Regions from separate parts of the Homo sapiens genome. Here region 2 is linked to region 1. The links come from fine-mapping of genetic effects on gene expression. A gene starts in region 1. The other region holds a variant in brackets. All regions are shown on one strand. Distances are between the middles of the regions.

Region 1 (4,380 bases):
CTGGGCTGGGGAGACTCAACCTCAAATTTCCCTTCCAGGGGGTTGCCCTGCTGGTGGCAGGTGAGCAGGGACAGGCTTGGTGGAGTATTCCTGGCAGAAGCAATGTGCCAGGCCTGCCTCCTCCCCACCCGTGCAGCGGGAGCAGGTGGCCCGGCTGCAGGGAGGGGGTAGGGAGACCCAAGAGAGGGAGGGGCATGGGAGAGGAAATTGAAAAAACAGAGTGGGGCTTGGGGGTGTGCGGCCAGCCAGGCAGTTGTTTAACAAGTAAATGTGCCGGGCACGCTAATGAGCTGCGCTCATTCATGGCGAGCCGCCTCCTGAATTGGGGAGCTGGCCAGGTTCTGGGGTGGAGGAACCAGGGACAGGAGCCAAGCTGGGGAGCTGCCCGCTGCTTGGGCAGGGCCCCCTGTGATGGGCTGCTGGGGGAGTCTTTGTCCTGGGTCTGGGGGGCTCCTTCCTTCCCTCCCTTCAGAGGAAAAGCCAGGCTTTGCCAGGCAGCAGCAACTCAGCCCAGGGCCTGCTTGGGATTCACTGTCCAGGCTGGTCTGGAAGCTTCTAGGGCAGGGGCTGGTTCTCAGGAGCCATAGGCAGGGCTGATCTTGCACCCCTGCTCACTCCCACCCTTCCTCATACCCCTTCACTCTGTCACTCTGAGGACCTAGGGGCATGTCGCCTGGCTAATCAACACTCTCTCCCTTCTCCACATGGGTCTTGGCTTCCAAGGGGCCCTCCGAGGTCCTGGGACCAGGGAGCTACTGCTGGAGCAGAAGGCTGGAGACATCTTCAACAGCCTGAGTGCTGTCTGTGACAGGCCTACTAAGTGCCAGGTGCTGGGGTGTGTGTCTGGGTGAGCGAGTGAGGATGCCAGGGGGTGGGCAGGGGTGTGGAGAAGCAGCTGCAGGTACTAAGAGGGGATAAACAAAGCAGCGGGCATGGAGGAATGTCACTCTGAGGCTGCGGGGAGAGCATGGATAGAGGGGCTGGGGCCCCATGGAGCAGGAGCTGGTGAGCTGCAGGGCAGGGGCAGCCCTCTCAGACTCCGGCCTGGTTTGTGGGAAGCTTCCCTAATATCCCACCACACAGGCACCCCTGAGAAAGCCCTGCCCCCTGAGAAACTGAACTTATGCTCAAGAACCCACTTACCGGATGGAGGTCATGGACAGGGATGTGTGAAAACTTTAAAAGAACTGTCAAAAGCCCATAAAATCAGCCACCTAAATTGTAACATACTGTGCTATGACAGTAGAGAGACTGCAAAATTCTCATCAACATGGAAAAGAAAAGCAAAGAAAACGCCTGAGCCTTGGGTACCTGGTGGGTGATAAGGCTTCAACCTTGTGGAGTCTATCAACCTCCCCTATCCCCACCCTGCCCGACACTCTCCCCACCAAATGCGTCCATGCTGTGTCTGGACCCAGGCCGCTCCTGAGACGGGAGGTGCTTCTCGGGCTACCCAGCTGTGTCCTCTTGCCAAGCAGCCTCACGTCAAGGCCCCGACTGCTGGACACTGCCCCAGCGAGCCACAGCTGTCCTTGGCGTTGAGGAGATCTTTCGTCTTTTCTGGGGTTGAGGAGAATTCTCTCCCCACCTGGATGTCCCGTTCACACCCACGTCCACACATGCCTTACGGTGACGAAGGTCCCTACCCAGCCGGGTGTGAGGCCTGGGTCTGACGGGGCTGGCCTGTGGGGTTCTCTCCCAAGCAGGCCGCCCAGCGCTATGCCAGCCCTCTCTGTCTCCTTTGATGTCAAGATGGAATATTCATTTTCATCTGTTTCCACCTGTCAGAAATGGAGGAACGCTGGTGTGAGTGGAGGAAGACGTTTGCCAGATTTCCAAGTCCCCTTAATGTCTGTCCCTCTCTTCTACAACGGGGGAAGAAGCCCGTGTAACTGTATGGTACAAATACGCCCTGCTGAGCAAGTGTTCCAATCAGAGCCATTCTCATCCTGGGCATGCGGCTAGCTTGTTCCCCTCTGAGAAGTGGGTGCATTGAGGTAGGAAGGAGACTGTACTCCGCCTAGCGCTTTCGTGGACCCTCCCCCCCGACAAAGCTCCATCCTCAAAGTCCAGGCTAAGTAAGGTTGGTGGCTTGAGGATGCTACCTGGGGCACAGGCACAGGGTTTCCCTTAACCAAGAATTGACACAGCGAGTCGGGTGGGGCCGAGAGGCCGCTGCTGCCGTCGGGGGATGGGGGGAAACGGGTCTGACTCCCCGGGAAGGCGTCCAAGCGGCAAAATAAGATCTCCCTCCCACCCTGGACTAGCAGCTGGGGCCGCGGGTGCCGGGGTGCGTGCGTCTAAATGTGCGCATCCTCGCCGTGTGTGTGTGTGTGTGTGTGTGTGTGTGTGTGTGTGTGTGTGTACAGCCAGGACTTGGCGGGTCGAGTCACACCCCCTTCCCTCTTCTCCCATCCCCCGCAGCCCCGTGCCCGCTGACGGCGCCTCGGAGGTTCCACCTTTGAAACTGTAGGCGGCTTGCAGCCGCTGAGTGGTCGTCGGGAGAGGGGGGCTGCGGCGGGGGAGGGCGGGGAGGAGCCTGGCCCTGGATGTGTGCTTTTCGATTGATGGATGACTGCCGGGTGGGAGCGAGCGCGCGGGTGTGTGTGTGATCGTGTGTGTGTGTGTGGTGTGTGCGCAGGGTGCGTGCGCGCGCGGGGCCTGCCCATTTTCCTCCTCGCAGCAGTCAGTTGGGAGCTGGAGGGAGGGAGAGGGAGACGCAGGCGGCGAAACGGCAGAGGAGCCGAGCCCCCTCCGCCCAAGGCGCCCTCCCTCCGTCCGCGCACAGGCGCCGTCGCTTGGAGGAGCAAGGTGCCTCCCAGCCCGCAGGGGCGCCGCGCGCAAGCCCGCGGGCTCTTCGGTGGCTCTGCCCCGGGACTGCACCTGGAGGCGGCCCCGGACGGGGATGGTCAGCGGCTGCTGCCGTCTGGCTCGCGAGCGGGACGCTGTGAGGGCACCATGGCGCTGACTCCCGGGTGGGGGTCCTCGGCGGGGCCGGTCCGGCCGGAGCTCTGGCTGCTGCTGTGGGCAGCCGCGTGGCGCCTGGGTGCCTCGGCGTGCCCCGCCCTCTGCACCTGCACCGGAACCACGGTGGACTGCCACGGCACGGGGCTGCAGGCCATTCCCAAGAATATACCTCGGAACACCGAGCGCCTGTGAGTATGGTCCCCGCCCCTGGCTCCCTGGCTCCGAGGTTGCCCTCCCACCCAGACGCAATTCCGGACTTGGGGGTGGGGGCAGGACCATTGGGGCCCGTCCGGGCTCCGCAGCCCACAGACGGGTCAGTGCCTGCCGGGGTCTTTCCCGAGCCAGGAGCCAGGAGCGCCGTGGTTTCCCCATCCCTGGGATTCAAAGGGCCCTCGGCGGGGTTGTCAGCTTCCGTCCTCACACCTGCACCCTGCACCCTGCACTCCGCACCCTCAGGCCCTCCTCACTGCGCCAGCGCTTTATTCCTCCAGGGTGCCTGCGAACTGGTGTCAGAAAGCCTTCCTTGCACCCAGGAGGGACACTTCCCACACTCGCCAAGCACAATGTCTCCTTTTGGGCACATGGGGCTACGGCCGCGTTCTGAGCCAGCTGCGCAGATTCCCGCTCCCAGAGCTTGCTCCTGACGAAGGGCAGCAGGGTGGGATGGAGGCGAAGTTTCTGGTCTGCCCCTTCTTCTCCATTGTTTGCCCCAGAGCCTTGAGAATTCTTCCCCTGCAGGTGCCACGCGTTGGTCCCCTACTCACCCGCCTCCCTCCACACCCAGCCATCCCCAACACAGGCAGACAATGGGACCTGAGGGCTTTGGGTATGGGGCTTGGGGTATGTAACATTCAGCACCCGAAAAGGGGCAGGTGTGTCTTGGATGGAGAACCCGGTGGATAATGCCAAGAAGTCAGGAGCTTGGAGAGGGGGGCCCAAGGTTAAAGATATTGACCATGACAAGTAATAAAAAAATAGCATTTCTCTTCCCCTGTTCTGTCTCACTTGTGAATTCTTGAGGAAACTTGATCCTTTTCTTTTCTAGACCCAGTAAGCTAGTAGAATGTGTGTGTGTGTGTTTGGGTGTGTTTGAGTGTGTGTATTTACAGACCTTTATACTTTGTTTTCTGTGACTCTCCTGCAGAATGTGTTTCTGTGTGAATTCCTAGTATTAAGGGGCCACCTTAATAGCGTGAGGCCATGAGAGTCCCCGTAATGGGCTGTGTGTGTGTAGATTTTGGTCACATGCAGGGCCTTTGTACTGCTCGCAGAGGTGACTACACCAGGAGATTTTTGAACAGGGCTTTGGAGAAGGCTGCTGGCTCCTTTGAAACCTACCTACTCCTCCTTCCCACACTCCTCGGTGACTGCAGTGGCTCTCAGGAAAGGTGTGCATATTTTGATAACTTTCGA
Region 2 (4,380 bases), 37 kb before region 1:
ATATTTTGGGTTTTTCTCTGTTTTGATAGTATTGGGTATTTGGTTGTTTTTGTTTGTTTATTTCTTTGTTTTAAAAGCCATGTTTTTGGTTGGGCTCTAAGCTAGATATCTTTCCCTCTTTTTCACTTTGAGCTTTGGGAAAACTCTTTATCTTATGAGGCTGTATTCCTCAATACCTAATTTGTGTCCAAAGAATTTATAGCTTTTCTGGACATTTTTTATTATTTCTTGGGTGTGACATCAGAGTATTTGACCTGCAGTATTGAAAAAGGAGAATTCAGAATGATACAGTATTTTAACAAATCTTAATTATTAAACTCTTTTCCTTCCTTCCATTTCTCCCTCCCTTGTCCATCTCTCTCTCTCTTTCCCTTTCCTCAGTGATGTGAAAATAATTGTGTTTTGCTGAACTTGTTATCTTCATTCAATTTCCTCTTGACTAAAACATCTCTGGTGCCAACGTAATACTTCTGAACCAAATCACTGTGACTCAAGGAAAGTCACTGACAGCATAAGAGAAGTTTGCTAAAATATTTGTATGTGGGGGAAGCTCTGGAGTGTGCCTAGGAGGGGGCTGGCTGCCTTTATGTCCCAGGATGACTCTTTATGGGTGGGATTACATTGCACCCTCTGAGGGTGCAGGCTAGACCGTCTCCTGAGAGGAAGTTAGGATCAGAAAGAAGAAGCAAGCAGCAACCTCTGCAGGGCTGACAGGATTTAAAGGAGAGAATGTTCTTATTTGGAAGCAGCTGTGGCTTGTCACCAATGTTCAAGGAGTGTTACTGTTCCGCCCTCTCTTTGTCAGAAGGGACACAGGTGGTAATTTGGAGATGGGGCCAGAGCTTCTGGCTTTTGGATTTGGTGTGTTCACTTGTGTTGGATAGAGCAGTGGCATGGCTTTGACCTAGTATGAACTGGTGTCTGCCCAGAGAGCAGCATGTAGCAGGGGGGAATGCTCAGGTTTGTGCCTGGCTCTGTGGAGCTGTACAACCCTTCTCACCCTGTGGGTTGGAGCCGAGTCAGGCCACTATGGGGAAGCAGTTGCCCCACAAAATGTGGTTTGCTGACCTATTTCTAAACTGTTGAATATGCTGCACCATTGCTGAAATGAAAGATGACTCTGGGGGAGCAGAGCTTGGCCTTGTGCCCAGCTGGCAGCCCCCTCTGCCAGCCTTTCTGCTGCTTTTGCTGCTGTAACAGCAATAGTGGAGAAAAATGTAAAATTTGGTCTTCCAGCTTAATGCAGTGTGAACAATAGATGGTTAGGAAAACAAAACTGCTTAGAAGCCCCTTTCTCTAGAGCAGTTTTATGTCATTTGTAAAAACACATATTAGCAAATTCGTTTGCGTAGGTTTCTATTAAATATTTGACTTTTTTTTTCTTATTAAGAAAATGAAATCCCTTACACCAGATATCAGTTAATTCAAACAGAAAACCCTTTGGGTATCACCAAATTGAAATGGTATTCTTCCTTAACTCTTCCTTCTTTCCTTTATTTGTTTAGACGTGCTTCATCC[C/T]GAAGTGGTGCTATGGTCTGTTAAACAGGGCTGGCATCAGGTAGAGGGAGCAGAGTGGTGACCTGATAGCTCCTGTCATCGTGTTAGTTTTTGATTCTATTTAAGGGAAGTAGCTGAGATTTAGACGGATGTAGATGCTCTTTGGGTGAATGGAATCATAAGCAAAGGTTGTGTTCTGGGGTGAGGATCATGAGAGAGATATTTATCACATGCACATGCCTTTATATAGCTGGTCTCCTTGGGTGGTTTATGTGTGTTTTGTTTATTTATTGAATATGTTTTCCCTTGCTTTAGGGGTTTTATAGGTCATTTTTCTTAATAGAAGCTGTGATCGACTTAGAATCCAAATTTGAGGAGTAAGCAGCATAACCTTCTACCTTGTAATATGTAACTATTCTAATCCAGTGGAATCTTACGGAAAACACAGAGAAAACCCCTTTTATCATTTGCCACAGAAGGCTGCTGTCTCCCTTCTGATTTGGTGGGCAGGTATTGTTTTTGAGCCAGTATTTAACAGAGTTTTTTAATCTATAAGATTTTTTTTGAATCTATTTCATTGTGTTTGTTTTTCATGTTGGAACAATCTCTCTGGAAGTGCCTCTTCTTGTGGCTTTTACAACTTCATTTCTTTCTGGGGTCACCTGTGATGGGCTTTGATGTGGTGTCAATTTGGGGCCTTGTGTTTGTGCCAGAGGGATACACATATTAAACTGCAGGCCACCTTCCTGGTCCAGACTGTACTGTGTGAACCCCACTGACTAAATTAGTGAGAACCATAGGCGTTGGAATTTCTCACCTTTTACAATGATAGACTTTTGCATTGGGACCAATGAATCTGGTGTGAAAAACCCTGCTGTAGTAGTGAAAGAGCATCAGGAGATACTGACTGTACCTGAGGGCCAAAACAGGAGCAGGTAACGAACCGTAAAAAAAGGAGCAGGTAATGAATCGTAACCAAAACTACAGTTGATCCTCCGCAAAGGAAAGCTCTTTACCCAGAATGTCCTTCCAGAGTCATTCAGGAAGGACAAGGGAACACCCTTGGGAAATGGGCTAGTGGAGGGCTGTTGACTGCAGTGACACCTGGGTGCTCCGGAGGTATCTGTTCTGTTGACCTGTAAGGAAGCAGTCGATCCTAGAGTGTCAGAACAGAGCCATTCTCTCCTCCTGAGTAGGAACGTTTCTGTTCAGTTTCCCTCACAGCAGCCTGTGTTAGCATGCAGTTGAAAATACTGCCGTCTAGGAGAACCTGTGGTCACTGGGAACGTGCCCCACAGTGACTGGCCATGCAACCAGGTGATTTTTAGGAATAGATGTCTCTAGACTCTGTCTCCTTTCCTACAAGGCCTCACACAGATGCTTGAGGCTAATGGCCCCCATTCTGAGGTCATTTTTGTGTAGAACTCCTTTCCCCAGGAGAGAGCCTTATCTCTGCCCTCCTTTACCCTGAAGGCTTCAAACGGAAGACAGGACCTAGATCTAAACCTAGATACTAGCATTTTGTGGGATTGTCTAGAATTTGGGGAAGATTTGGGTTCCTAAGATGCACAAGCGTTTTACACCAGTGGTGATTAACTCAACTAAAACCCACTGTAGGAAGTTAGCTTCCCCAGACAGCTAATGCCGAGATCTTCTACCAGCGTAGAGTTGACAGAAGCAGGCCAGCGAGGAGGTGTGGGACATAATAGCCTGAGTGCTTGGGTTACCATGGAGACTGGAGTGTGTGAGGCCACAGCCTGTGCTAAAGAGCCATGGAGCCCTCCCCTGGCCATGTCTGGGGACAGATAGAACCTGTTGGGGGAAATATTCCCTCACCCCAGGGTTCTTTCTGCAGAGCAAGGGTTGCCTTTGTCCTATCCCTGAGCTTGCTCAACAAGAGAAACAAGGTTTCTTAAGTGTTTTGGTTAAAGTTTTCATTCTTATTTGACTATGTATATGTAATTGTAAAGAAACGATCCTATGCATTGTCTTTCTTTTATATTCTTGTAATATTCTGAAATTAAAATTGTTTTGTTTCATATCCAGAGGATTTGACTGGTCTATTCACATTTTGACTGTTGATGTTGAAGAGAGAGTTTTTCTCTTGTTCTGAGGAAAGTGAAGCCTCTAGAAAGGCTCCTCTTTGGCTTGTTTTTAGGTGGGTGGGTGGGTTCAGGAGGAGCGGGGCTTTTGGCTGATAAGAAGTATGATTTGGAGCCTCTGGGATCCTGAGCTTCCTAATTTCCCATGGCTGAGTCTAGAATGCTTCACATAGATTTCAGTTTCTCACATAATTTTTATTTCTTCATTTAAAAACAAGGAGTGATGGTTACAATAACAGGAAAACCTAGATGAAGTTTTCATCTGAGGCAGGAAGGTGTGTTTAGACAGCTCATGTTGAAATGTTCCTGCTGCTGTCTTGGTGGGCTTGGGCTGCTTTAACAGAACACCATAGACTAGGTGGCTTCTCAACATCAAAAATGTGCTTCTTACAGTTCTGCAGTCTGGGGAGTCCAAGAGCATGGTGCCAGCAGATTGGGTGTCTGCTGAGGGTGCACTCCCTGGTTCACAGACAGCCGTCTTCACTGTAACCTCACATGGTGGAAGGGACAAGGGATCTCTCTGGGGCCTCTTTTAGAGGAGCACTAATCCTATTCATGGGGGCCCTGCCAAAGACACTCCCAAAGACCCCTCCTACCAAAGACCCTACCTCCTAATATCATCACATTGGAGATTAGGTTTCAAAGTTAATTTGTGGGAATACAAACATTTAGTCTATAGCAGCTATTTTTTTTTTTTTTTCGAGACAGCATCTTACTCTGTCACCCAGGCTAGAGTGTAGTGGTGCGATCTTGGCTCACTGCAGCCTCCACCTCCCAGTCT

Direction of the effects. Positions count from the first base shown, and alleles are read on the strand shown. Sizes are in standard deviations (SD) of each study's normalised expression.
In carriers of allele T in region 2, the expression in whole blood of the gene that starts at base 2,674 in region 1 tends to be lower than with C alone (moderate effect, 0.48 SD a copy in GTEx).

Evidence for each region. PIP is the estimated chance that this variant, and not a neighbour inherited with it, causes the effect.
Region 2: its variant is the best candidate, but not a certain one, in a credible set for the expression of SLIT1 in whole blood (GTEx, PIP 0.51).

Annotation. Positions count from the first base shown.
Region 1 is chr10:97,184,253-97,188,632 of GRCh38, reverse strand. SLIT1 (slit guidance ligand 1) reads left to right here and starts at 2,674. Exons shown (of 37, transcript NM_003061.3): 1 at 2,674-3,155. The coding sequence starts at 2,959. The region is part of intron 11 of ARHGAP19-SLIT1 (ARHGAP19-SLIT1 readthrough (NMD candidate)); the gene reads left to right. RefSeq lists enhancers at 1,829-2,329, 2,330-2,830.
Region 2 is chr10:97,221,337-97,225,716 of GRCh38, reverse strand. It overlaps ARHGAP19 (Rho GTPase activating protein 19), which reads left to right. Exons shown (of 12, transcript NM_032900.6): 12 at 1-3,538. The region is part of intron 11 of ARHGAP19-SLIT1 (ARHGAP19-SLIT1 readthrough (NMD candidate)); the gene reads left to right. All of the region lies in intron 2 of LOC105378447 (a long non-coding RNA gene), which reads right to left. Among named protein-coding and RNA genes, the nearest start is that of SLIT1, 38 kb to the right of the region's middle. The variant C/T (reference allele first, on the strand shown) is at 1,519.